Regions from separate parts of the Homo sapiens genome. Here regions 2, 3, 4, 5, 6 and 7 are each linked to region 1. The links come from fine-mapping of genetic effects on gene expression. A gene starts in region 1. Each other region holds a variant in brackets. All regions are shown on one strand. Distances are between the middles of the regions.

The links. PIP is the estimated chance that this variant, and not a neighbour inherited with it, causes the effect. A credible set is the group of variants that fine-mapping cannot tell apart.
Region 2: its variant is the best candidate, but not a certain one, in a credible set for the expression of MAP3K20 in B cells (CEDAR, PIP 0.67).
Region 3: its variant is the best candidate, but not a certain one, in a credible set for the expression of MAP3K20 in monocytes (Fairfax 2014, PIP 0.84).
Region 4: its variant is the best candidate, but not a certain one, in a credible set for the expression of MAP3K20 in whole blood (INTERVAL, PIP 0.58).
Region 5: its variant is the best candidate, but not a certain one, in a credible set for the expression of MAP3K20 in sun-exposed skin (GTEx, PIP 0.80).
Region 6: its variant is the best candidate, but not a certain one, in a credible set for the expression of MAP3K20 in blood mononuclear cells (TOPMed, PIP 0.86).
Region 7: its variant is the best candidate, but not a certain one, in a credible set for the expression of MAP3K20 in whole blood (TOPMed, PIP 0.84).

The regions. Positions count from the first base shown.
Region 1 is chr2:173,073,312-173,077,378 of GRCh38, forward strand. MAP3K20 (mitogen-activated protein kinase kinase kinase 20) reads left to right here and starts at 2,535. Exons shown (of 20, transcript NM_016653.3): 1 at 2,535-2,691. RefSeq lists silencers at 2,230-2,279, 2,360-3,099.
Region 2 is chr2:173,267,532-173,271,598 of GRCh38, forward strand. MAP3K20 (mitogen-activated protein kinase kinase kinase 20) reads left to right here. Exons shown (of 20, transcript NM_016653.3): 20 at 1-484. It overlaps MAP3K20-AS1 (MAP3K20 antisense RNA 1), which reads right to left. Exons shown (of 8, transcript NR_033882.1): 2 at 3,980-4,067. Among named protein-coding and RNA genes, the nearest start is that of MAP3K20-AS1, 12 kb to the right of the region's middle. The variant C/T (reference allele first, on the strand shown) is at 2,270.
Region 3 is chr2:173,234,403-173,238,469 of GRCh38, forward strand. It overlaps MAP3K20 (mitogen-activated protein kinase kinase kinase 20), which reads left to right. Exons shown (of 20, transcript NM_016653.3): 15 at 3,971-4,033. All of the region lies in intron 2 of MAP3K20-AS1 (MAP3K20 antisense RNA 1), which reads right to left. Among named protein-coding and RNA genes, the nearest start is that of MAP3K20-AS1, 46 kb to the right of the region's middle. The variant TA/T (reference allele first, on the strand shown) is at 1,864.
Region 4 is chr2:172,943,135-172,947,201 of GRCh38, forward strand. All of the region lies in intron 6 of RAPGEF4 (Rap guanine nucleotide exchange factor 4), which reads left to right. Among named protein-coding and RNA genes, the nearest start is that of MAP3K20, 130 kb to the right of the region's middle. The variant C/T (reference allele first, on the strand shown) is at 1,584.
Region 5 is chr2:173,043,384-173,047,450 of GRCh38, forward strand. The region is part of intron 29 of RAPGEF4 (Rap guanine nucleotide exchange factor 4); the gene reads left to right. Among named protein-coding and RNA genes, the nearest start is that of MAP3K20, 30 kb to the right of the region's middle. The variant C/A (reference allele first, on the strand shown) is at 1,534.
Region 6 is chr2:173,225,433-173,229,499 of GRCh38, forward strand. All of the region lies in intron 11 of MAP3K20 (mitogen-activated protein kinase kinase kinase 20), which reads left to right. All of the region lies in intron 2 of MAP3K20-AS1 (MAP3K20 antisense RNA 1), which reads right to left. Among named protein-coding and RNA genes, the nearest start is that of MAP3K20-AS1, 55 kb to the right of the region's middle. The variant G/A (reference allele first, on the strand shown) is at 2,435.
Region 7 is chr2:172,960,987-172,965,053 of GRCh38, forward strand. It overlaps RAPGEF4 (Rap guanine nucleotide exchange factor 4), which reads left to right. Exons shown (of 31, transcript NM_007023.4): 8 at 136-242. Among named protein-coding and RNA genes, the nearest start is that of MAP3K20, 110 kb to the right of the region's middle. The variant C/G (reference allele first, on the strand shown) is at 1,898.

The sequences.
Region 1 (4,067 bases):
ACCTCACTGCTAAGAGTACATCTATTTTTAGTGTGGAAACATTTGAAGTAAAGGAATAGGCAGGTTTGATAAGAGAAGTTTGACTAGGTCTCTTTTGTTATTGCTTTTCACACGGGTAAACCTAAACTCTGCCTGGTGAGCATTAACCAATTCAAAAAAGATTTGAAAGTTCAAAAAAGCAGTCGGTGTTGAGAATACATACTAGACCATATTTATTAGGTCTGGGGCCTAAAAAGATCAGTATAATCAATAGGAAACAGGCAGCTTGACAAAAGAAAAACCAAACTTGAGGCAATCAGTTTATCATACAATCATTATATATTTATTTCAGCTATGGACAATACATATGCAGATACCACACAATATAAGATGTGACCTCAAAGGGCTTGCAACCTATTTGGGAAGACAAGAAAATGTCTACTAGATTATCATTTAAGCATGTTTCTGAAACTAATCTTTAGTGTTCATTGTTCCTGCTGGTTATTCTCTTGGCCTAATTATGTGAGGAAAACAGAATGAAGGCAAAGGGATGGGAAGCAAGGGCAATGTGGCTAAAAATATTGATGCTCTTAAGCCATGTGTTCCAAATTTAAAGCAATACATTCATGGTTTTAAAGCTGGAACCTGCAACTAACTTCTAATTAGTCCCTCTTATTTTACAGAGGAGGAAACTGTGGCCTATCCTGCAAAGCACTCTAGCTGATAACTGGTAGCTCTAAGACCAGAAGTCAGGTTCTCTGACTCTCAGTCTAGGGTCCTTTCCAAAACAAACAAGTGCCTCTGAAGGTAAGGTAAAATGACTGGAGTCTTCCTATGCCTGGGGTCTATGCTAAAGAGCCTTAGTTTTTCCTTGAATGGATAGGATGGAATTATTTGAATTATTTTATTAGACCTGCATTATACATTTTTTTAGCATGGCAATTTTCATCAATTCTAATTTCTCAGTTACCAAAATAAAATTTATTAATGCTAAAATCTCCAGTCCTTATCAAAGGGCAAATTAATCAGACTAATAAATTGTTTTTTAACCTCTACTCATTCATCCCTCAACTTTCATATCTTTAACCTATTGAATGACTTACAAATTTTCTATTTCACTCTTGACCTCTTTCCTGAATTTCAGTTTCATATTTCAGTTGCTGCATCTCTACCTGTTTTTACTCCTATGACCTCAAACTCAACATGAAGCCAGCTTCCCTTTCACGTATTCCTATTTTTGTCAATGACACCATCATTCTTCCAGTCATCCAGGTCTGAGATCTTGGCATCATCTCTCTTCTTCTTCTCTTCTAAATCTTGTGGGTTACCAATTTCTGTGGCCTCTTGCTGAAACGTTTAATATTTCTCTCAATTCCATTTCTTCTTTTTTTTTTTTTTTTTTTTTTTTTTTTTTTTTTGAGACAGAGTCTCACTTTCATCCAGGCTGGAGTGCAGTGGCGCGACTGTGGTTCACTTTAGCCTCGACTTCCCCAGCTCAAGCGATTCTCCCACCTCAGCCTCCCGAGTAGCTGGGACTATAGATGTATGCCACCACATCAGGCTAATTTTCTGATTTTTTTGGAGATGAGGTCTCACTGTGTTACCCAGCCAGGTCTCAAGCAATCCTCTCAGCTTGGCCTCCCAAAGTGCTGGGATTACAGGTACCATGCCCAGCCCATTTCTTCTTTTTAATTCCATTTCCTACATCCTAACTCAGGTCCTCATGATCCCACAACCGGGTGGTGACAATATCTACTACTCATCCTGGTTCCATCCTAGCAACCCAACCTACAACTACTGTGGACTACTCTCTCAAAATTACCATTTAAACAGAATCACAAACCCCCATTTCACCCCTTTGATTCTAATTTTTCACAGCTCCCAGTGTCCATGGATAATAAAATTCAAATTCAAAATCCTGAATAATGTTGCCCATGCCCTTGCAACCTCCTCTCACTTTTCCTTCACAGAACCATCCTCCCCAATCAGAAATTTCTTTTCTTCCCAACGCCCACCTCCACCTTTGGCTTAGGCCTGTAACGGACTCTGGCTCCTCTTCTGAATTCTGCTCTGTTAAAATTAGCAACTAGAGCAGCAGACCACGGCCCCTCCTCAAAATTCCAGAGGTACCTACTGATCTTTCTAGAGAGGCAGCCTTCAGACCTATGTTCCCAGAAATCTCTACGTTTGTGCCTTTCCCAACTAGAGAATTAACTCTTGCGGGGCACAAAACAGCCTCTATTTCTTTGCGTCCCCAGCGCCTGTTTGTTGAAGACTGAGTTGAAGGAGTAGCAGGTGGTGTTAATTTGTCAAAAAGATGAGTTAAGGTGCTGGGGGCGAGGGGGAACACCCCCACGGCCCTCCCCCCACAGCAAGGCAGGTGTGTCTGGGGGCCTCGGCGGGTGCCGGGGCGCGGGGCGGATGGTGCCCCCCGGGCGCAGGCCAGGGAGGCCCGAGCGCCTTCCCCACGCCCCGCTCGCCCGCGCGTGTGAGGGGAGGGCGGCCCAGCCGTTTCGCGCCGGGAGGTAGGTGGTGCTGTTGCCGTGACTGTCTTCCTCATTGGCGCCGTGCAGAGAGGCGGAATGTTCAACTCCTAACTGCAGCGGAAACGTGGGAGCCGCGCGGGCCGCTGTCGTCCCAACCCCCGCCGCCCTCGTCGCGCGCGGGGCCTCCGCGCCCCCGGCTGCTGCTCACGCCCCGCCCGGGAGCCAGGTAGGGGTCAGGCTGGAGCCCGCGGAGGGCGGGGAGGGAGGGGGCGAGGCCCGCCGCGCTCGCGAGTCGTCCCTGCGTCTCGGGGCCGAGGCTCCGCCGGAGCCCGGGAGTCTAGGCGGCCTCGGGAGGCTCCTCGGGGCTCCCCTCCCCGACCCAGGGCCCGCCCGGCGGCGGCGGCCGGAGCGAGCGGGCGGGCGAGCGAGCGAGCGTTCGCGGCGCCCGGGAAGTCCTCGCGGGACCTTGGCCGCGGCGCCGCCAAGTGCGGTTCGGGAGAGTTCGGGCCGGTCCCATGGAGAAGTTGGCGCCTGGAGGCGCGGGCGCAGGCCGGAGCGGCCCCGGCTTTCGCGGTCCCGGGCGTGCGGCACGGGCAGGGGCTCCGCGAGCAGCAGAGCCGGCCAAGCAGCGGGTGACTGGGGCACTGTCGGGAGGCGAACCGCGAGGCCCCCAAATCAGGGTAGGGTGCAGGCCACTTCCCAGCACTCGCTGTGCGTGCGAGGAGGGACGACGAACTTCTGCTTTTCTAAGAACTCGACCGCGAGCGGTGTTGCTTCCCATCCATTTTCCTTCATTCTGTTTTCCTCACACAATTAGGCCATGCGAATAACCAGCAGGAACAATGAACACTAAAGATTAGTTTTAAAAACATGCGTAAATGTATCCAGAGCCACCGCTCCCCGCCCTTCCTGCCCCGGGCTTGGGCAGCATGAAGCGCCCGCCCTCTCGGGCTTCCCCCTTTCCTCCCACCGGAGCCGGGGATGTCTCCTTTGGCGACCCTCAGGCAGCGGCTTTTTGTGGGCTCCCAGACCTGCACCAGGCCCAGAAGTGCTTACCCAGGCCGTCGCCTCGTCTGGCCTCGCTTGCCCATGACAGCTTTCAGAAAACTTTAATTCAGGACTGGCTAGATGACATCCGATTGCCTAAAAAATTTTTTTAAAAAGTTATCTCTGTTAGATCGCTGAAAATGTTATGTTTCTGATGCGCTTTGAGATCGCGCATAAGTACTGTTTATGGGGAACTTAATTACTATTTTTGTTAGTTTCTGTAATAATGAAAGCAACACAATTTAGGGGCCCATTCCAAGTATGGTACAGTAAGCAGCTCTCGATACTGGTGTGTGAGAATCGTCTTACAGAGTGAATTTGAGGATGTTTGACTTAAGATTGTTGAAAACTGTACTCCTTCTTTAACCCCGAAGCTGTTTTGGAAGAGCCTTCTTGCTTCCTCGACCTTCGTTGAAATGAACAGCTAGGATTTAGTGGATCCAAACCTCCAAACACGTTTAAAGACAAAAATAAACAAGTGATTCAAGGCTAGTTAATGTCCTCTTTGTAGTAGGCCTATCTCCACAGTGAAATTTCACTTGTTTTTCAATTTTC
Region 2 (4,067 bases), 190 kb after region 1:
ATGCATATCTCATTCATTACGATTTATCAGAAACCAAAGATTTAAATTGCCTAGATTTGTGGTTCTTTCTCTTCCTAAGTTCCCAGCGACTGCTTTCAAATACTATTTTCTAAATTTCACCAAAGGAGCAAAGAGGATAAAACAACACTCCATAAAGGCCTCTTGGGATGTCAGAAATCTAAAATCTAAAAGAAAACAGACACAGAGCAAGACAATAACATCACAAGCTAAAAGCCAGAGAAATTTAAAATTACCAACATCCTTGTTGGAGTAAGACAGTAAATATCAGCCTTGCAGCAAGACAGCTCTGAGCAGCTGTGGGCAAAGAGGTAAACCAGTGGGGGTGCAAGGAGACTGTCTGCAGCTTAGGGCAGAAATGGTGGGATCCAACTTGTGAAATGCTTCATGTTTTACAAACCAAAAAGTCAGGTAGCAACAAACTTATTGTATGTCAAATCAATAAATGTTACTTTCAATATTCTGAGATTCTGTTCAGCATTCACTAACCCTGTTTAGCATTCACTAAGCCCTACATAGGATTCTCAGTGCTCTGTAGAAATCCAGAGGACACTCTTCTAATTCTGTGGGTTTGAATTCTTTTTTAAAAGAAGCTGGTCATCAGAGTACATGCATTTGTTCTCAGGGTAGCTCCCCTGCTGTGTGTGATACATTACTTGAGGCCTGGTGGGGAAAACTGTATTTCGGTAGCATTAAAGTCAACGTGGGTGGGGCATGGTGGCTCACGCCTGTAATCCCAACACTTTGGGAGACTGAGGCAGGAGGATTGCTTGAGCCCAGGAGTTCAAGGCCAGCCTGGGTCACCAGCCTATCTGGGTCAGATAGGGAGACACCATCTCTACAAAAAAATACAAAAATTAGTTGAGCATGGTGGCATTTGCTTGTAGTCCCAGCCACTCAGGAGACTGAGGCAGGAAGATCACTTGAGCCTGGCAGGTCAAGGCTGTAGTGAGACGTGACTGCACTGCAGTCTGGGCAACAGACCAAGACCCTGTCTCAATCAATCAATCAATCAATCAATACTAAAGTCAAAATTATAGGAAATGACCTTTATTTACAAGGGAAGTTGTCATCACCTAAACATTGATTCAACAACTTGATTTTATAAAGTTTTACTGGGTGCCAGATGTATTTACAAGCAAAAGCAATGGGAATGGTGTAGTCAGTTAGTGAGGGCCTCTTTTCCATCATGTGTAACCAACTTCTAAGGTTTTCAGCTCCACCATGATTCTTTCTCATGAAGCTATCAAGCACAGCCTGTTTTCAATTATTTTTGCTTTTTGTCCTTCATTTAAAGTAGACTAATGCAAAATATGCTATCTTAATATCATGCTGTTTCTAAATAAGCAATAAAATATTTTCTGTGATCGGAATTTTTGGATAAATAGATGAACAGTCTTGACCGAGTCACTCTGAAAGGAACACAAAGTATGGCCTTCATTGTGAAACAAAATTTGCATTCTGGGGAATTGCTGAAGAGTCTAGTTTAAAAGGCACTATGCAGATCGTTGCTAGTTTCATGCCACTTTCTTCCATCTTGCTTTCTTCGGTTATGGGGTAGGGAATCCAAGCTGGTAATAAAATAACTCAATGATCTCAGCCCTATTTAGTGCAGTCAGTGACTGCAAAGAGGTTATTCCACCAGCCCACAAAACTGACCACTTTGTAATATCTCATGGAAAAATACTTGTCAGCATCAATGCTCCCAGACAAAATCAGAGTAAGAACATCTGCAGTCTGCTTCTTGACTGTAAAGAAATAATAAGTTGGATGTTCTATTTTTTTCTTTTCCTAATGATGCTTATTCACCAAAAGTCACTTGCCAGGTTGAAAGATCAATGTAAGTCAAGAGCAAAGCAGGGATTAACAGGATTTTTTTTTCCCCATAAAAATAAATTAGTAGCCAACAATGAGAAACTATTAGTTGCAAGGAGTGAGGTGGTTAAGACCAAAAAAAAGAAGAAGAAAATAAAAAGGAAAGGGATATTATTCTAGGATTAGGAGAAAAAAATTACAGTAGAACCAAATCGAAAGAGTATATCTTGGACAGGGAACCTCTAAATGTGGAGATTTTCCCTAAATAGGCTTCAGAGCTAGTTTGGAAGTGCCAAGTCTACACTGGTTGCTACCATCGAGGCAGTCTTTAGTCCAGGCAAGGCCCAGACAAAGCAGGATGTTTAGCTCTTTGCACAGTCACCACATTAGCAATACCATGGACCTAGGCTGAATAACTGGATAATCCCAAATCTGT[C/T]TAGGAGAACTGGAGATTTTTTTTTTAATCAAGGACTACTTCTGAAAGAAATACAATTAGCAATTGTTTTCAGCCAATTTATAATGAATATTGCTCATAAAAATAAAAAGTATAATATTTAAAACTATTTACAGTAAAATTCAGAACAGTAAAATCTGACCTGGGAAAATTAGGTAAGAAACAGTAACTATAAACGAAAACTCACAGTGGCAGAAGCTATAATTGGTAACGAGCAGTATGAATAACAACAAAAAATTGATATGCAAATCTTCATTGTAAAATTAAAATTGAAAATAATCGATTCCATGGGAAAAAAATCAGTACAATAAAAAATCTGGCCAGGTGCAGTGGCTCACACCTGTTATCCCAGCACGTTGGGAGGCTGAGGCAGGAGGATCCCATAAGCCCAGGAGTTTGAAACATGGGCAACATAATAAGACCCTGTGTCTACAAAATATACAAAAATTAGCGAGGTGTGCTGGCACATGTCTGTAGTCCCAGCTACTGGGGAGGCTGAGATGGGAGGAGCTCTTAAGCCCAGGAGGCTAAGGCTGCAGTGAGCCAAGATCATGCCACTGCACTCCAGCCTGGGTGACAGAGTGGGAACTTGCCTGAAAAAAATAATACACAAATGGGAAACAGCATTATGTTGGATAGGAAACCAATCAGGAAATTAAATTGACATGACATTCATTCCATGAAATGCTTTCTTGACAAAAACATTTCTCAATATTTATATAATTCCGATCAAAATGTTTCATGTATAAGTAAAGTCAAAATGTCTCCAGGATCAAAACAGTAGGGTCAGAATCTCCAATAGTTCAAAATGGCAGGGTCAAAACATCCTGGATACACCTCAAGGCATTCTGACTTAACTGCAACTTTTCCAATTCAGTTGTACCAAAATATTTTATATTTGATAAGCTTTTTAAGTACCTTCTCTACAATTTATCCTTTTACTTCAACAAGTTGGTACAGATGTGGTATGCTTCTACAACTCTGGTTCTCAGAAACTACTCAATTTTAAGATGTCATGATGTAGCTGTGCCACCTTGTTCAGGATGTAACCTCCCTGAAATTTTAAATTATAGAGACTGCACTTAGGAGGTGTATCAACTCTCTTGCCATCATTGGATCTGAGAAACTACAGTGAAGCTGGGGTGCCCTGGGGAAATTAGAGCGAAAGACCTGGACTCAGCTTCTTACTATTTGCTGTTATTGGAACCGGCTTATGAGATTGCTAAAGTGGAAAAAGTGCCAAATGGAGGGTCAAAACTGTCAAGGCTTTAGTGTACCAGCTGACCAAATAATGCATGACCGAACCAACAGAGTTACAGAATGAAAAAGATTTATAACCTCATAGTTCATTCAACACTAAAATCAAGATTCAGTTTCTATAACCAATGTCCCATTACTCAAATCTACCAGAGAAACTCCTTGCCTACCACCACCCTGATGAAACTTACTCAGCTTTCAGGGTCCTGCTGAAGTCCTGCCTCCCTGGAGACCTCCCCCACAGCTCCAGCCACTTCTCCATTCTGCTCCTCTCCAAGGCCCTTTATCACACACTCTCTTGCACCGTTACTTCACCCTGACAAACCCACTCCCTTGCAGGTGCTCTGTGAGTACAGTGCAGTGCTGCCCAAGAACTTGACAATAAGGGAAATAAGACTAAGCTCTGAGAATTAATTGATGAAATGGCTACAATACCTCCCAGGCATGGAAACGTGCTGCAGGTACCAAGCAATCCAAAGAGAGCATGGGTCTTTCAGAGGCTGTGGTGAGTTGGAACAGCCAA
Region 3 (4,067 bases), 160 kb after region 1:
AAAGAAACCTGTGGTTAAGGAATTTACATCTCAGAGAAAAGATTAAACGTGCACACAGCATCCCCTTGGCAACTGGGAGGAAAGGACCAATTCATTACCCGGACTTGGGAGAGGCCATGGTGGGAGATGGAGAGGGTAAACTTCACAGAGTGGGTGGCCCTTGAGCCGGATCTTGGAGGAATGACAGATTTTGGAATGTAGACCAGGAAAGGAAAGAACATTAATCTAGACAGAGAGAACAAAGAGTTAAGAGAAATGGAAGAGAATGTGGAGGAACAGAAAAGAGGAGTCCCGACCTACGTAGCATAAGCAGCTCCGTCTGCAGAACACGGGTGATGAGTAGAACGCATGGCACCTGAAGTGGAAGGAAGGTGGGGCCGGATCCTGGACAGCTTACAACTTCAGGCTGGGGGGAAAGAGCTGGAATTTGACCAGCTGTTGGGAGTATTGAGAATTGACAGGTTTACACTTTGCTTCTGGAAGTTTTAAAATGTATTAAAAAGGCAAGGCTGGGTTTTGAAAAAACAGGAGGGTATAAATGTGGAGAATAATAAGCACTGCAGTGTAGCAAAAACGCGAATGGAGAGAAGGGGAAGATGTCACAGGTAAGAGGGCTGTTCTCAGGCTCAAGAAGGAAAGCACAATGAAGTATTGATTGTTGTGGACGGACTGGCTGGGGCCGCTGTCGCAGGCAGTAAAAGAATTTACCAAGACAGTCGTAGGTAAAGAAAGGCAGATTTATTAGAGAAAGTGTGAAGATGTGTTGCAAGGGTGCAATGGGCAGCACAGCAGAGAAGGGGCTGTCTGCCAAGAGGCAGGGGCTTGAGGGAAGTTTTATGGGATCATACTGGAGGGGCTACGTCCAGATAGGGTGTGCAGACGAGGTCATGCTTCTGGAGTTACTTGCAGAATGAGGTATTTGGGAACAGGTTGTTGTGATTGTCTGTGATTAGCCGTCTCTCAGAACAACTGTTATCCCCCACCTGGGACCCCCTCCTCGTTGTTGCTTACTTATTAGGACTCCACACTGATATGTGTGGCAGCATAGATGAGCCTTGAACATGATGCTAAATGAAAGAAGCCAGACACAAAGGTCACATATTGTATGAGACATCCTGAATAGGCGAATCCATAGAGACAGAAAGCAATCAGTGATTGCCAGCTGCTAGGGGGAGGAGGCAAGGGTTCTTGACTGCCTAATGGGAGTAGAGCCCCCTTTGGGGGTGATGAAAATGTTTTGGAACTAGATAGAGGTACTGGTTGCACAACATCGTGAATGTGCTAAATGCCATTCAATTGCCCACTTTAAAATGGTTAATTTTGTGGTATGTGAATTTCACCTCATTAAAAAATAATAATAAAGCAAAGGAAAGCACAGGCACCTCTACACCCTGCCCAAGAGTAGTCTTCTTCCAGCTAGGAAGCTTTCTGTCTTTGGCAGAAAGGATGTGTGTGGCCAGGAAAGTGAAGAGGAAGACAGGAATATCTGTCCACAAAGTAGGAAATGAGGAGAGAATGCTGTTACAAAAGTCAAACGTTGGAAAAGCTTTAAGATAGAATCGGTGGTCGAAAGGGTCTAAGGGCCAGGCACTGTGGCTCAAGCCTGTAATCCCAGCACTTTGGGAGGTCAAGGTGGGCAACTCACTTGAAACCAGGAGTTCAAGACCAGACTGGGCAACATGGCGAAACCTTGCCTCTGCAAAAAATGCAAAAATTAGCCAGGCATGTGGTGCACACCTGTGGTGGTCCCAGCTACCTGGGAGGTTGAGGTGGGAGGATCGCTTGAGCCCAGGAGGTTGAGGCTGCCATGAACTATGATTGCACCACTGCACTACAGCCTGGGCAATAGAGTGAGACCCTGTC[TA/T]AAAAAAAAAAAAAAAAAAAAAAAAGGCAGGGACAGGGGACAGGGGTCTAAGCTTGCAGAGAAGCCAAGGAATATGCAGAGAGAAAAAGCCCTGTTGGAAGCAGCCACTTAAAAGTAAAAAAAAAATTATTTGACCCACTAGAGTGGAGTCAGTGTAATGTTCTCTTTTTATGACCTCTGCAGAGGGTCTGCCCAGAGCTCCAAATGAAGGAGTAGCCTGCATCTGTTGGGGGACCTAACACTGCCCTCAAACTCCTGAGTGAGTCTGCACTCAGTCATTCTAAAGACAGTCATTCACAGAGGGGCAGTCTCCAAAGTGTGGAATGCGGACCCCTCCCCCTTACTGCCAAGGCTGGGGCTGTATGTAAGAATGGCTACCCAGTGGGGGCTCAGCCAACAGGTGACCACTAAACTCAGCCAGAGCATGGGGATTTCCAACAAGTTTATATGAGAGGGAAAGATAAAGGGAAAGGGTCATGTGCACTTACTCTAGGAGGGCCCTGCATAGACTCTCAATTAAGATAAGTAATGCTCCAAGCTGGGCCTTTGGGGATGAGTAGCTCCACGCTGGAGGAGTCCTCCTGGTCCTTGTCAGAAGTGTTTCTCACACACAGCCTGATGGTAAGAATGCATCCTTCCTTTATTCTTTGTGCTTTCACTGAGGAAGGCACAATTGTTGTGTACTTTCTCCAAGAGTCTCTCAGTCCTTAAATGGTAGGTGATCAAACTGGACAGTGGAGCAGTATATCCACCTTTTTTTTTTTTTTTTTTTTTTTTTGAGCTGGAGTCTCACTGTGCCGCTCAGGCTGAAGTGCAATGGTGCGATCTTGGCTCACTGCAACCTCCGCCTCCCGGATTCAAGCGATTCTCCTGCCTCAGCCTCCTGAGTAGCTGGAATTATAGGCGCAGGCTACACCACACCTGGCTAATTTTTGTATTTTTAGTAGAGACAGGGCTTCACCATGTTGGTCAGGCTGGTCTCGAACTTCTGACCTCATGATCCGCCCACCTCAGCATCCCAAAGTGCTGAGATTACAGATGTGAGCCACCGCACGCGGCCCCCACCCATTCTTTTCCTTTGTGTTTGTCCCTCCCTTTAAGCCTGACCATGGCTCCCTTCTTCTCTGAGCCTGCAAGCCCTCGTGTGGAGGAGTAGAGTGTAAGAAGTAGGACTGAACACCCAATAAGTGTTCATTACATTGTCAGCTGTCAACAGTTTTTATTTTGCTTTAAAATAAAATGCATCTAATTTTCTCAGGTTGGTACTTTTTTACTCTCTCTGCAATCAGTTCTTAGAAAATCTGAACTGTGCCTGCTGAGTATCCAAAAAATCATCATTTAAATTGTCTTCCTTTCCTTTCAGATTTGTGTTTCATTGGCAGAGGGGATGTTGGACACATATCCAAAGAAATGTTCTTATAATGCAATCAACCTTTTAGTGAGATTCTAGCCTTCCTGAAAGTCTGGTGTTATGTGCTGTGCTGCTTTGCTCACTGTTATTCAGAGTGGCACCTGCATTCTGTACAACAGAACATCCACTTCTCAGTACTATACTCTGGCGGCGTTTGAAAAATTGTTTTATTTATTGCTTAGTCTGAGGTTCAACATCTTTAAAATGTCTTCTTTCTTGGCCTCATCCCTGTAATCCCAGCACTTTGAGAGGCCAAGGCAGGAGGCCAGGATTTCAAGACCAGCCTGGGCCACAAAGACCCCATCTCTACAAAAAATAAAATAAATTAGCTGGGTGTGGTGGTGTGTGCCTGAGTCCCAGCCACCTGGGAGGCTGAGATGGAAGAATCTCTTGAGCTCAGGAGTTCAAGGCTGTGGAGAGTTATGATAGCATTACTGCACTCCAGCCTGCACGACAGAATGAGACCTGGTCTCCAAAATAAAAAATTTTTAAAAATTTCTGGTCCTTTAAATAATTACAAACCACCTACACTGCTTTGGACAATGAGATTTATTCTAAATAGACGTTGGATATAAATGCCCCCAAGATATTTTATGAACTAGGTAAATAAGGAATGTTTTTGTTTGTACCCAATGATTTTAGTCTTCTCTTGGTATTACTGGATCATTAATAAAGTCATATGATTTTTTTTACAGTCAGCCATTGAGAAATTAACCCATGATTACATAAATTTGTTTCACTTCCCACCACTAATTAAGGTAAGTAAGGTTTTTCTTACCGACACTAATGCTA
Region 4 (4,067 bases), 130 kb before region 1:
TGGCATATTTGAGAAGCTAAAAAGGAAGAAGGGAGCCACTGAGGCTGGAGAGGCAGGCAGAGGTGATGTTCTGAAGAGACTTTGAAGCAGTGGTAAGGAGTTTGGATTTGTTCCTAGAAGAATGGGGAGGCACTGTGTATAACTAGAAAAATGACATGATCAGAATGGCTCTTTTTAGAGAATTGCCTTTACTTTAAGGGGAAGGTAAGCAAGGACTCTTTCCTCAGAGGGCAGCAGACAGTAGTGCAAGTGGTTAACCAGAGAGTTCCTATCCCAGAGCTGCCAGTTTCCTCATCTGTGAAATGGGAGTAATGGGAGCTCATCAAAGGGTTGTTGTTAGTATTCAATAAGATAACTGATGTGACTCACTTGGCACACAGCATTTGATAAATGTTTGTTCTTACCCTTGCCTGAGCCTGGAATAGTCTCTTATAGGAGAAATCCACAAACCTTCCTTTGTCTTCAGAACATACTTCAAATCTTGGGCATCCCTGCCTCTGGATTCCTGTGCTGAAGCACCCTAAACAAATGAGATAAGAATGGAATGGCTTTACTCCTACCCCACAACCCAAAATCAGACAAGAAAACCCTTTCGCTGTCTTGCCTTTCACCCGCTGTTTTTGCTTGCATATGCGTTTGCTTTCATAACCTGAGAACAGTTGTTGCATGAACCACATCCTCTCAGAGTTTTCTCTGTTCTATATCTTCATAAAGGTTCCCACATGCTTCTTCTTTAAAAATATGGTAAGATCACTGAGGTTAACCTCCTAATGATAATTAGGGAGAAATAGTTCTCCAAATGGCTACTTGAGTAAGAAGAAGCAATGACATTACCAGATAATAATAGATCAATTATTTATGGGATTTGCAAACAGTCAGTCACCTAAGGCATTTTACTTATGAAATTTTAAAATAAAAACACTTAATACATAGATATTAAATCACATGGAACAGGTTTTCCTCACTTCTAGCCAAACACACGGGAACATCTTAGGCTGCCTTCTGCTCCGTCCTTCCTTCTGTTCTTGGTAAATGCACCCTTGGTAAATGCAGGCTGCCAGTCTGCATCCTGGGAGGAGCCTCACTGTAGAAAAAAAGAAGGAAACTGACAGGTCTCAATAATCCCTTTAGGTTTATGCGATAAGACAGTCATGTATTGAAAGTTCTGTCTTTGTTTGGAAGAGATTTGCTTTAAAATGCAGCCCACCATTTTGAAAGTCCTAAGGGGCAGAAAGCAGAGATTTGTAGTGTTTCCATGTTAGGTAGAGATAGAGGCAAGAAAACAGGTAAGCAGTGGAGTCCTCTTATTATCTTGGGCAAGTGCCCAGGGTGAGCCTGTGTCCTAGCACAGCGAGTCATGACTGACTACCTTCCCACACTTCGGCTGTTTCTGTTTCATGGCTGCAAAACCCAACACTTCCAGAATCTGGAGCCTCACATAAGGGAAGCAGATGGGATTGAGATACTTGGAGATTTCTCTCAAAACAGGCTGATCTTAGAGTGATTAACCCCAGTCTGACTGAAAGCTTTAATCAAGGGGCTGTTGTAGCTGTGTCATCTTCAGCTGAACATTTCCCCTTTCT[C/T]GAAGAGATACTGTGAAAATCTGTCCTGAGGGTGAGCTACAATCCTCGTCGTACTTCCAAAAAAAATTATGTCCACAGTTTAAGTTCCTAGTCAATAAAAGAACACAAGAACATTTGATTCCTTCTCATTGTACTTGCAGATGTTGCAAGTATGTCTAAACCTTTCAAGTTACTTTGAATAAAAAAACTGTGACCTCCAGGTAGAAATGCCAGGTTTCTAAAGTATGCGTGAGCCTCCATCAGCTCATTATTGTGGGTTTTTTTTTCTTCTTATACACATTCTTGGAAATTAGAAAAATACAGAAAGGGGAAGGGAGGAAAATATGAGTGAAATCAAATTTTAGAACTTAATATATCATGCTACTTATTTCTTTGGCCTTTTAGAATACTGTTGGCATATCTAATTGAAACCATCATCTGTACTAGGGCAACTTGATGATAAAAGAAAACAAAACTATGTTTAGGGAACCTGGTTTATGAACCTGATCTGAAATGAACTTGATATTTTATGTAGTATGCTACTTTTCTGATTTGCTTCCATATTTTATATGGTATGCTTTTAGGACTTTGATCATGTTTGTTTTGATGAGCCTTGCAAAGGCTTAAAAGGTTTCTTGAAAACATCAATAGGTTTTTGCTATTCCAGGAATTTTGCCAAACCTAGATCAAATATACTACTGCCCTCAGGTTTCTGAGTCCTTAAAGGTTATCAGAATTATTTGTTTGTATATTCTTGTCCTGTATTTGTACTAAAATTATGTTTATTGTAGCTTTTGCCTACTAGATTGTTTGAGGTAGAAAAAAGTCTTTTACAATTTTCAATCAATACAGATAAATACGCTCACATGCAGAGGACTATACAAAAGTCAATCGAGTGCATTATTTTTAATTCAAAGTGTAGGACAAAGACCTTTTTTTCATGGTAATTATTTTACCTTTCCCAACTGGGAGTTACTATGCTATTAAAATAATGGCCTAAGGCAGTTTACATAGCATGCATTTAAATATTAAGAGAATCTATTTGTGTTTTTCTGTTGGACATTTTTGTCTTAATTGATCTATTTCTTCCACATTAATATGTATTAGTCTTAATAAAGACACTGGCTATGTTCAAGTGGCCAAAGATAGACCACTTTTCTAAGAGTTTATTCAGAAGAAATATCTCATCCAAAGTTACCTTCAATGCAAGCTTCACAATTTGACAATGTGCATTTGGAACCATAATCCCTGGCCTGGGTTTTCTACTTCAGGGAATTGATTCTGAGAAGATAATTCCAAATATGAGTGGGTAAGGGGAACTTTTGGCCTAAGTTTATAGCATATTAATACTACTAGCAAATCATTAAAAACTTAAAGGCACATTGACAAAAAAAATGTTAAATTATGCTGTATACATTTAAAGGAATTTTGATGGTTACAAAGAGTTTATAGCAACATGTAAAATTGCTTATGATTTAGCATTATGTAAAAAGGAAAGATACAAAATTTTATATAAAGTATGATTACACTTCAGTTAAAAATAAAACAAAACCCACACTTAGAAACAGGGGCTGAATATTAATATTCCAAAATATTAACACAATTATCTTTGACTGGTTGGTTTTGGAAGATTAAACTTTTTTATACTTTCCAATAAGCATGCATTATATGTAATGGAAAAATAGGAAAAGGTAGAAACCTATACCTGAGTATATGCCTTTACTACAATTGATAATCTGATTCTCTGTATCTATTCTTAACAATGGTGAATTTTTATCATCACATATACTGTCTTCCTACACTTTCTCTCACCTCCTCCCAACTCCAGCTGTAGGCTACAGCCAGACTAGGGGACTCACAATGCCTTAAACTCCCGTCTGTGTGACTTTGGCTCCAGCCTGCAATTCCATCTGCTCTCTCACTATCAAGCCCTGTTCATCCTAAAGACCCTGTTCAAATCCCACCTCCTCTGGGAAGATTCCTTGAACCACCCTGGACAACTGTTGCTCTTCCCTTCTTCCCCCAACACAAACCTTCTGACTCTATAAAATACTTGTGTATATGTAAAACGGTTCCACCGGATGTGCCTTTCATCATTTTGGGCCAGCCAACAGAGGAGGCATGGGCATCCCTCTGACCTTGAGAAGCCCCACCTGCTGATTTATCAGTGCTGACACTGACAGGTGACAAGTGGGTAACGACTACCTATAAAACTGTATGCATTTTTCTGACTGTTCATTACCTTAACTTAAAAAGTCAACTGTAGAGATTCTGCAACATGTATCATTAAATGTGCTTCACTTATTCTGAATTTAATACATTGCCTAAACGTATTTGTGAAAATTTCTGAGACTTGACATTCAGCTTGTACCTCCAGAAGCCTCTGGTTGTCTATTGACAACTGTGTGTTGTTAAGACTCAAATCATTGGGCTTCCTAAGGGTTAAATCTAGGAAGAATGTGATCATGTTATATTTGCAATGAAATATGTGAATAAATAGGATAC
Region 5 (4,067 bases), 30 kb before region 1:
GAGCCGCTTCCTGAGGGATCTGAGCAGAGGCAGAATAATAGGCTAAGAGGAAGGCTATTGTGGCCGCTGTCTGGGAGCGGGAGGTCCTAGAGTGGTACCAATGAGGTGGCGTGGCCTGGAGGGCCTGCCGGTCAGAACTTGAAGAATGAAGTCTTCTCTTCCGCAGTGGGAGAGCAAAGGGGGAACTTGGACTAGGGCACAAGAGTCAGTGCAAGCTGGCTAGGAAGGTGGGGGCAGCCACAAAGTCCTGGTAGGCTATGTCATGTCTTTATAGGAGTGAAAGTGGAACTTGGCTGGCCTGCTCCTGAGGGGAGGACACCACAGAAGGGTGACGCCTGCCAAGAGCCAGGCCGCAAAGGCCCAGTCTGAGAACAAGGTACCTCTGACACCTCAGCGGACTCAAGGGAAATTCCCTGCATCAGAGCTTGAGGGAAATTTGTGTTTGGGATGCCGGCCTCAGAGCCTCTGGCTTGTGCCAGGCCGAGGTGCAGACAGTGGTCACCCCTTCCTCTGGATGCTGTCTTTGTACTGGTCACTCTGATGCAGGCTGACCCCTAAATTGGGGCTCAGCTGGAGAGAGTTCTTGGCTTTCCTAAGGAAGGAATTTAAGAGCGAGCTGACAATGAAAGACAGCAAGTTCATGAGAGGAACAGTATACAGGAAAACAAGTGCTCTGTAGACCGAGCAGCGCTGTCTTATAGGCAGGGTAGCACAGAGTAGCACTCACAGAGTGCTGGCCGGCTCTATTTATACCTACTCTAGTTACATGCTAACTAAGGAGCGGGTTTTTCACAAACTTTCTGGAAAAGGGGCCAGGAGTTCCTGGAACCATCTAAGGTAGCTTCCCGGTCATTGCCGTGGCATTTGTAAACTGTCATGGCGCCGGGGGGCGGGAGGGGGGGTGAGTATTGTCTTATGCAAATGCATTATAATTCCTAGTCCTAGCTGGTTTGGGCTGGTTTCTTTGCTACATCAGCAGGGTGGTGACCAAGGCTGGGAAAACAAATCCTGCTGATCTTCTACCTCCACTCTGCAACGCAGGCCCCAGGAAGGACATCTACTTCTGTGCCCCTCTGTTTTCAGCTCTAAAGAAAAATAGACGCGTGACATAGTCACAGAGTTCTTCACTCACCACATCATTTTTCCTTTCTGCACTTCCCTCCTCGAGTGCATGTCCTGAGGGGAATTCATCAGCTTTCAGTTGGGCCCATCTCTAAGCCCTGTAGGCCACGAACTGTAGGAACATATTCATTTTTGCACATAAGCTCCGAAGACCTGTACTTAGGATTAGTCCCAAGAAACATCAGTTTAAGCGTGGCGACAGGGGGGTTCAATTTGTTCCCCTACACGGATCCGGAGCGCCTTCTAAAGGAGGCGCTCTAATGTGGGGCATGTTTGCCCCACATTTACTCCTGAATTACCAGTTGCTGTCTTAATGAGCTATTTGCTCAAGGGAATGTGTCATAAACCTCAGGCTGGCTACTGGGGAAAAAAAGATGAGAATCTGTGCTTTGGAGTAATCAGACACTCCCC[C/A]ACTCCGGCCTGGCGTTATAGAAAGTTGCCTGGCCAGCTCCAGGCAGGCCAACCTGCTCTGGCAGGACCATGAAGCGTAGGGTGTAATTTTTGGTTTCACCCCTGCTGCAGCAGTTGGATAATGAACCCTATATCTCTTTAACCTTTGTTTCTGCCAGGCTAGACTGCGAGCACCAATGAATAAACAGCTGTCTACCGTCAAAAATAACATAGGCTGAAGTTTGTGGAAAGATAGACTCTAACTAGATGGTTTTAGTTTTTAAAATCCTCCACTCTGGTCCAAGAAATCAACTGTACGTGCACAGAGCAGAAAGCTGCATCCACAGCAGCTCAGCAAAGGAGGCTGAGAGGTTTAATTCATGAATACTTCAACAGATGTCAGTGGCATGACTTCTTTTTAACTGTAGGCCCAGTATAGCATCATCTAGATCAAGGAAAGAAGAAAGATCATAATTTCTCTGCACTTTACAATTTGTTTAGTCTAGGGCACCATACTAGAGACGGTTTGGAAGAGAACCAAAACTGTCTTATGAAGAATTGTTGAAGAAATTGAGAATATTTAGGCTGAACAAGAAAAGATCTGGGGGTGTGAAGATATCCATAACAGTTATATCCAAGTATTTGAAGACTTGTCCTGTTAAAAAGAAATTAAACATGTTTGCTGTTGGGTCATTGCCGTGGCATTTGTAAACTGTCATGGTGCCCGTGGGAGTCTTATGCAAATGCATTATGAGCTCCAAGGATAAATGAGCGAAAAGTAAAAGGAGAAAGACTTTAACTCAAAATGATAAGTTTTAATAATCAGAGATGTCTAACAATGAAACAGGCTATTTTTGGAGGTAATGAGTTACTCATTGCTGGATGCATTCAAACAGTGGGAGAGCCACTGTTTATAGGCAGGCTGTAGAAAAAGCATTATGCACTCTGGAGATGGTTCAAGGAGGTGACTCCTGAAGTCTCTTTCAGCAACTCAGGAGAGTGCCTTGTAGTTGGGTGTAGTTGTCAGTAACTGCTTAATATTACATGTGTTAATGGGTGCAAAAGGAGGTGAAGTTAAAATATTAAGTTAACCCTTCTTTGGCCTTGTGAAAGCATTTGTAACTATGCATTGACCGGGAATGCTAGTTAGATTCACACATCATCACTGTGGGTTCACACCATTAAACATTATTGTCCGGACCTCACAAAGGAAAAGAATGGACCTCGCTGTGAAGCCAGATTTGGATTTCGAAGTTAAACTGAAGTTATCTTTGAGAACAATTAAAAAGGATACGTCAAAATTAAAACCATTGTTAAAATTAATCAAAGATTTAGAAAGGTAGAATGAACTTCAGGGCTGGAAATTACTGATTTAAACAATTGTTCTCACATTTTAAACTACATGAGCTAAAAATTATGAAGTCTCAGAGTATAGCTTTAAAGAGTAGCATAAAACCAAAGTCAGAATGAAATGTTTTAGCTTTCAAAACTAAAAAGCAGAACAATTACTCCCTACAAAATGGTATAGGAAGAGGTTTCTGACCCCTGCTAATTGTTTTATTATTCTTCAGAGGGGCATACTGGCAGCATTTCCCAGGGTTTTCGGTAATTACACTCCATTCAATATCTGAAGAATTACAATAATTCTACATGGAATATACTTGTGCCCTTCAGATGCAAAGCCTTTAGAGAAGTGAAAAAACAACTTAAAAGTAAATTAGCAGGGAAGTTATCATAGTTACTATTTATTTCACGGCTCCATATATCAAGGGCTAATTATACATTGTACGTTACATTTTCTGGGAGGGATTTGTGATATGTTTCTCATGCTGATCAACAGATGGATGTGTCAGTTTTCACGATCTTTGATGAAGTGAAGTTCTAACTTTTCCAATTGCCTCTTTGTGTGCGAAATTATCCAATGCAGGTACATGTCACTTCAGGCTTGCTAGAGTCCTCAAAGCAGTAGTATTCAGTGAGGTATTATGATGCTTGCAGATAATATATTTGTAAGGCCTTGACTCATCTATGATTTTTTTTTACACTATGTAAGCTTTCTCAAAGTCATTTTCTTATACTTTGGCAAGCCAAGGGTCCGTGAGAGAAGAAAGGGTTGACTAGAATTACATAGCTGCTCAGAGATCGGGGAGTCTCTTTCCCTGGGTGGAGCCTTATCAATTTTCTGCTAGTGTTGTAATTAATCTATTATCTCCACAGGACCCCCTTTAGAGCCTGAGCAGTAAAGTGTCCTGAAACATACATAGTGACCAGGAGTGCCAGCTATTGTTCAAATACCGTGACATTCTGGCTAAGAAATGGAGCGTAGGTCTCATCAGTGTTTTTCCCCAGGGGATAGGAGTCTCTGTTTCTGTCCATTTTCTTTTCTCTTTTCTTTTGTTTTTAATTGAGCTCAGCACAAAAGATTCCCTTTTAAGTCTTTATTGCAACCAAAACTTTACAAAGAAGTTAAGATGATCACTTAGTGACCAAATTTTAAAAGGTCAAATCAATTATAATCTGTCCATTTGGTTGAATACATGCTTTTTAAAAAATGT
Region 6 (4,067 bases), 150 kb after region 1:
AAAATACAAAAATTGGCTGGGTGTGGTGTCACATGCCAGTAACCCCAGCTACTAGGGAGGCTGAGGCAGGAGAATCACTTGAACCCGGGAGGCAGAGGTTGCAGTGAGCTGAGATTGCACCACTACACTCCAGCCTGGATGACAGAGTGAGACTTCATCTCAAAAAAAAAAAAAAACAAAAAAAAACAACCCGGTAGCATTGTCCCTTCCCCACTGACAAACTTATCAAATCCAGAAGCTTTAGAGTTTCGTCTCTAATTATTTTTCTCCTGAACAAAATTACCCAAGTCAAAACAAAATGTATTTTTAGAATTACGGCAGCATACGACCTGAATTTTGTGAGTTTCGTGGCTTTATCTTAAATCACCATTTCCCTAAAAATGGTTTCTTTCTCCTTAGAAATGCTGGTGGCAACTTGATGAAACAGCCAAATGCACCAGGGCAGGTCACTTTCCCATTACACTGATTCCACAATTAAAAAAAAAAAAGAAAAAAAACTCATTGAGATAGCTACAGTTCTATAGGTTAATTTAAAGCCTCCTTTTTCTACTCATTTTTGAAAGCAAAATTACATTTTACTATTTTACATAACCAGTGAAAAGACGTTGAAAGCCTACAGCTCACTGTTTTTGGTGCTCTGGAAATGTTGAGGGTGGGTTTTTAACCAGTGATTTTTAACGTGCAGTGAATTTGTTAGACTTTTAAACACCAGCTAAGGTAGTCAAACTTGATCCCCATTAAAAATCAAGGAATTAGGGGTCGGGGGAGGGTTTAGGAGTGATCCAGAATGACCTCCCAGAATTACTGTGCGTACAACTTTATTTTTCAGAGTTTTCATTGGAATGGTAAGAGTTTTATGAAAGACAGTTTTAAAACTTATTCTGAGTTAAATATTAATACTTTAAAAAATTATTGTACTAGACTTATTGCAGCCTTTTGAAAGTAGCAGAGTTTCATCATACCACATATATAACAGAGCATAAATTTTCTATAATCAGGCACCTTTTGCTGCTTTTGAGTAAGACTGTTTTCCTGTTTAAGTGTTAAGCATCGCCAGACATAAAAATCTATTCTCTCCTCTCGATTGTAGCATAGCCTGACAGCTCTAGATACAGCATTTCTATGATGAAAAATGAGTATCCATCAGGAAATCTAGAAGACTAGCCGTGTTTTCTCAGACTCCACCTTTGTTTGCACTCTGTTGCCTGTGAGGAGCTTTCTGGCATGTGATTATTTACTTCAAAACTAGAGTTCCAAGCACCTACATTAATTATTTTATATTGTGTGCAGAATAGTATATCTTTTAATGTCAGATATGATACACTGCACATATTGCTTTTGCACTCTTAAAATTTTTGTACTAAATAATAGAAAATATTTATATTCTTTGAGTGTGAGCTTTGAATAGATGGCATTATCACTTTATTGTTTTTTTAACAAAAACTTTTTCTCAATTATTCTATTGCAATGTTATTCTGAGCAAGTCCTATGCCAAATATCTTGTATAATGTTTGTATGGAAGATTAAATTTTACTCTTGTGTGGTAAGACTATTTCAGTTACTGATTTTATAGTTGGAATTTGATATTCCAGCACAAAGTCCACAGTGTATTCAGAAATCCAAGTTGGTGTCATACATTTCATTTTGATGTGAACTTTTCTTTGCTTTCCTTTGTTCTAAGACTCCATTTTGCAATAAACGTTTTGACAGTAAATCCCTTTGTTACGTGTTGCTGTGTATATAAGATCCCTGTTAGATTGGATTCCCAACATCCTTTGAAGGAATCGTTGTCACACGCATGCAAACAAGTGTTAGCTTTTCTCTCCTAAAGTCAGTGGGAGTGTAAATAATAAATTTGTAAAGTGATGGGACAGTCATGGGGTGGATTTTTTTTTTATTCCCTAAAGAAAGAAAGGCTTAGAACTCATCCTACAGCAGATACACTGATATGTTAACAAGGTACAGAAAACATAAAGGAAATGGTAAGCCACTCTGTGGCTGGAGATCATTAACTCTTATCCCCCGTCTTGCCAAATTCAAGCTGTCATGAAGCAGTGCCTGGCTCCAGCCTTCCTCTCACTGATCTTTGCTAGCATTGTGCAAAGAATCCTGCTGGAGTGAGCGTCCAGCTGAAGCCAGTGCCTTTCCCTAGGCATCGTATTGGAGAACCATCCTCAGTGTGCAACCAACCCCCTCTCCTTTCAACATTAAAACCAAAGATTCTGGTTGTGATTAGTTATTTCATTTACAACTTCTATTCTATTCAAAAAAATACTTCTTTCTCAATTTTGTTTAGTACAACATTTAGGAATTTTATAAAAATAACACTACACATCCCCTCCCCCCAACCCAGTTTCTATAAAGGTGAGCCTTGATGCAGGAAAATATTTCTGTAACTCAGACTGTTGTTTCTTGAACGAACCAAAAAAGTTTC[G/A]TATTTCACATTTGCTTCTGTGATGGGAGAAGGGAATGGCATGATTCTGCAGCTGTGTCCAGCTGCCCTGTGAAGAGACAAAATTGTCACCTATTTTTCTTTGATCCAGTTCAGCTTTAGATTCTGTTCCTCAAATCTTTCTCCTTTCCCCATTATTAAAGCAAGTGAATGTGTGTGATGACTCCTACCCACCTCAAGTGTTTCCGAGGAGGCAAGGGCAACCCTGGAGGGAAGGGAAGCACATGCAGGTAGCAGAGTATACGCAGAACAGGATCGATTTCAGTGTGTACTTTATGTCCTGACAACTTGTCTATAAATACTCAAACCTAAACATTCATATCCATTTCAGCTAGTGGGTTTTTCCGCTTGCCTTCCCACCCTGTCTGCCTCATTTACCCTTTTTCCTCCAACATGAACTCACTGCCTTCCATTCCCATCCTTCCCTCCTGTCCCTCCCTCTCCCGCCATGCCAGGTTTTGCCTTGTTGCTTCTCTTTACCCGGAATCACCTCTCTTCTTGCCCTGAAGGACCCAGCTCAAGCCGTGCTGCCCTCCATTCTCCCATCTTATTTTATGAATCCCTTTGTGAATACATCTGTCTATGGTATACCCATAGACATTGAACTCTATACCAGAGAACTTAGCATTCCAGTAAATGCACCCTTTAATTTTATTCATTCTTTAAAATGACTCAACAAAAATTTACCAGATACCGTATGCCAGGCACTATGTTAGGCATTAAGTAAACCGAGATTCAGGTGACCTTGGAATCCCCCAGGTATAATTTATAACTGTATTAGTCCCAGTTAAATTGAAAGCTCCTTGAAGGCAGGGGCTGTGCCTTTCCTAGCAGAATTTTGAGCATGTGGGTACAAAATACCTGTAAGTTAGAAAGGTTAACTCACCTACCCTATGATTTTTATACTAACAGTAAAAGCAACCAAACTCAACTTTTTTTTGAAACTCACTCACAAGAAAATATTTGTAACAGAAGATGAGTGACAATTTGCCATATTATCTCATAAGCAATTCATTTTTGGGGGGCAAGTTAGGCTAGTTAAAGCTAATAGCTGTACCAAACTCTAATTTGACTTATAGGACACACAGACTTCTAAAAATTATGTAAGCATTTATTATTTAGATGGCCATGGGGCATATATTGAAGACAGTAAGTAGTTCTTTGGCTCTGAAAATGGTGCAGGCTGAAGTCCTCTGGAGGCATCTTCATTTGTACTTGTGAACCTCACAGGGAGGTATTTTAATCTGTTTTAGTTAGAGCAACTCTGCAGCCTGGGTTTCTTAGGACCGTACCAATTTCCCATGTCCTTCTTCATCCGTGAGTGCTAACATTTGGTTTTTAAAATATTGTGCAAATGAGATCTTTCAACACTTAGAAATTCCCCCTTGAGAACAGGCATAATACATGATCTGGTTACTAAGTGGTTGCTTTGGAATTTTCATTAATAATCCAACAGTCCTCATGTTGGCTGAGACTCTGAGGAAGACTCTAGGTCTCTGAGAAAATGTCAGAAATTGCTTGACTGCTGAGGCTTGATTGTGGGATGTAAAAACCAGGTACCAACAAAGGAATATGATACAGCTCCCAAAGTACATGAATTGTTACTGAGAGATTG
Region 7 (4,067 bases), 110 kb before region 1:
CAAAGTAAAGCACTGAGTGAGTTATGTTTTCCAAGCCAGAGTCAGATTGGAAAGTGGTTTCAGGATTTGTTTGGTTTGTTTTCCTTCTATAAACACTTCTTTCTCCTCCCCTCCTTCCACCTGATTACAATCCAGGTCCCTTCAGAGAAGATCCTCAGAGCTGGAAAAATTTTACGAAATGCCATTCTCTCTCGAGCACCTCACATGATAAGAGATAGAAAATACCACCTAAAGACATACAGGTATGTGTGCTAATTCTAAAGGCTGTGCCCCGCTCATATTCATGTTTAGTGAAAATGGAACAAAAATGCTTCTCCCTGTTTTCCATGTGGGCGCAGCCCATTTTGTAATGCCTTCAGGTTCTGGAAGGTTAGGCTTGTCTTACATCTCAGCTTAACTGCAGTTGTTTAATTATCCTTAATATTCCTAGCACCTCCTAAACTAAGTTGCTTGGATATTGGTTTAGTTGTGATGAACAAAGAGAAGAAAATTTTTGTAATTTCTTTTTGCTAGTGACTTTTAGGAAGCCTACTAGATTTAGATCACATTCAACCAACATTGACTGCACACTTATTTATACTCAAAGACCTGTACCAGGTCCCTTTTGATATATTAGCTCATTTCATTCACATAACACTGCTAGACATGTAGACCATTTTTCAGATAACAAAACTGAGGCTTGGAGAAATTAGTTTTGCTTGTCCAAATCACAAGTCTAGTGAGTGGCAGGGCCAGGATTTAAACCAAGGTTGGTTGATTTCCAGATTCAGTGATCATTTCATTCAGTCAGTCATTGATTTATTCACAAGTTTAGCACTTACTGTGTGCCAGGCACTATTGTGTTTCAAGCTCTAAGAATACAGCAGTGAACAAAATATGCAAAGTCCTTTACAGAGCTTGTTTTCTAATGTAGGATTCCATCGTAGCATGCATACAGTAGGATACACAACTCTGTATCACATATATATTCATATAGAATATGGATTCCTAATTATAGTTGTCACTGGAGTTAAGAAATGACAGAGATAAAGGCAGAGATTTCATGGTTAGCTGAACCTTCTGGGATGACTGAACCATGGTGGGCCAGTTAAGAACTCGAGTCTAATCCCTAACTTTTGATTTTCAGAATTCAGCAACTTTTGATCAATTCAGCAAGTGTTGAGGAACTAGAATTGCCAATATGTGGCACACAGACCTTCACTCTGTCTTCCCAAACCCAGGGCTCAGACATGACTGCCCTCTTTCAGCAATCAGTGAGACTCTCTTTCCCATTTAGCCTAGACATGACCTCAGAACCCATCAGCATTGGCATGAGTCAAAACCCATTTGATTCACAGGAACCAAATTCATAAGACACACTGAAAAACTAGAATACAAATTTCAAAGTTACCATGAAGGATGCATGTCTTCTACCAACTATGATAGAATCTACAAAGGTTCTGGTTCAGGAATTTGAGCATAAATAAGTGCTCAATAAATGTTAGTTGAATGTGATCTAGATCTAGTATCTACAGGGTTCACCTTAAAGCAAACCTACTCAAGGACAGAGATAGAAAAATATATTGCAAATTCTTCCTCTTCTGATTATTTTTTCTATACTCCATGCAAACTAATACTCTTCTGCTTGCATTTGGCATGAATATGTTAGAAGACCAAAATTGACAGTGTATTACATTTAGATTGGCCTCTTGTTGACCGAATTTTGGAAATGAGATGAGACTTGAGAAAGTGCCTTAGTGTCATCAGTAGCATATTCCACTTAAGACACATTCCATCTCTTAGGACAGATTGATTACTTAGCCCTTTTTATGTTGATATTAACTAACTACTATTTTGGATGTTTACATTTGTAAGTCCTGTTCTCCAACACCAGAAGTTGATTCCTTTTCTAGTCTGT[C/G]GACCTGTATTAGTCTGTTTTCACACTGCTATAAAGAACTATCTGAGACTGGGTAATTTTTGAAGAAAAATGGTTTCATTGACTCACAGTTCCACAGGCTTAACAGGAAGCATGACTAAGAGGCCTCAGGAAACCTACAATCATGGCAGAGGGCAAAGGGGAAGCAGGCACATCATACCATGGCAGAGCAGGAGAGATAGAGAAGGGGGTGGTGCCACACACTATTAAATGATCAGATCTCATGAGAACTCACTCACTATCACAAGAAAAGCAAAAGGGGAAAATTTGCCCCCGTGATCCAATCACCTCCCACCAGGCCCTTCCCCTGAAACATGGAAATTACAATTTGAGATGAGATTTGTGGGGGACACAAAGCCAAACCATATCAGGCCCCCTACATACTGCTATAATTTTGAGAAAAGTAAAGGTTAAAATAAATAAATCAATGTGTCATATGTCTTCAGAGAGAGTTCAACCTTTTAAATTCATTCAGGGGATCTCAAAGATCTCATATGGTTAAAGGAACTTTTTCTTTTCAAAATTGTATTACTTTTTTCCATAATTTAAGATGTGATTGTGCTTTGCCAAGTATTGACTTGCATTAGGGAAAATTTATTAAAATATGTCATGTTTGATGATAGATAATGGAAACTAGAAGTTAGAAACCATAATCTCTTTTGTGCTCCATTGTACTAAGATTTTAAACCCCTGAAATATAGGTGTTATGTCTGTTCCATGCCCTGTGACACAAATTAATGACCTATTGGGAATAACCACAGGACTCAACTGGAAGCCAGAAGCATGATTTCTTTTTTCTGCAGGACAGTCTGAGTTCCTTGTCCCAGATCTTATACTTTCCAGTTCCATCCTCTCTCTCCCTCCTGCTTCTCACTCCATTATATTATTGCCACAGTATTCGGGGGCTGAAGCCTCTCCTGGTGCAGCATAACCCCCCAAAATAACTATACTAGCGGTCTGCTGTCAATTCTAAATCGTCTAGGGATCATTAATGGAAAGGATACCTGTGATTCCATCAGCTGCAAGTAGCACAACTGTGTGTCTTTGTTCAGTATTCTGACTGCAAGATTCTTAAACCCTTTGTAAGGACTCATCAGACGCTCTGGGATCATCTCGAGTCTGTGTACTCTTTTTTTGTAAAGGTAATCACTGAATTAAAAGCCAAATGAAATTGATTTTATGTATTTTTACATGATTTTTACGATTAATCAATTCTCAAATTAGGAAAGAAATATAATGGAAGGTCTTATGTTTGGTTCAGAATGATTTATAAGTAGGTGACTGTGCCCACTGAAGCTCTAATGTGCGGGTATAGACTGTAATAAGGGCAGTCCTGGAAATATAATGGCCTTCTCAGTACACCCTCCCTGTGAAATATTCTGAAGTCAGGGTCAACCCCAAATCAAGGAATCCCACAATTCCTCTGATAGATTTCAGAGGTCTAAGATTAAAATTATTACAACTGGAAAAGGCTTTAGAGGCCATCATTTGCTCCTCCTATTTTTTTTTTTTTTTTTTTTTTTACGGCAAAGAAAGTGAGAACCAGAGAGTTGAAACCATGTGGCCAAAGTCACATAGCTAAGTAGCAGACCTAGTTCTGTATCTCATGTCTCCCGCCACTTCAAGATTGTTCCCAAAGTGGCACAGAACCATGAGTCTCCTCCAATTTCAACTAGAGAGGAGCTCCTTAGCCCGTGCCCCAGAGGTGGTGCTGTGCTTAGTATGAGAAGGGAGGCCACCAGTGATTCAGTCCCAGCTGCAGGCAGCCAGCTGCTCTGTGACTCCCTGCCTTGTTCCATCATCCCTTGGGATTGAGCCATCACTAGGACTTCAAGATTCTATTTCCTCTCTTGAACCATCATGTTGTGGATACCTGCCCCCTTCTCTCACCCCATGGGGAATTTCTGTATTCCCAAATATGTGAGTGTATATACTTATGCATTTCCTAACTAATGTATGCAGTTTGCTTATCCAGACCAACTCACCACAGAAGGGCATCTTGGGGACTAATGTGTGAATATACAGGAAGCCAGAAAGCATGTGGAGCTCTTCAGATGACAGGCTCTGGAGAAGTGCTAATGCTCATTACACAGAACTTTTTCAAAGAGATTTGCATTGCTAATTGCTTGTTTCTCCCAACACCCCTCCAAGG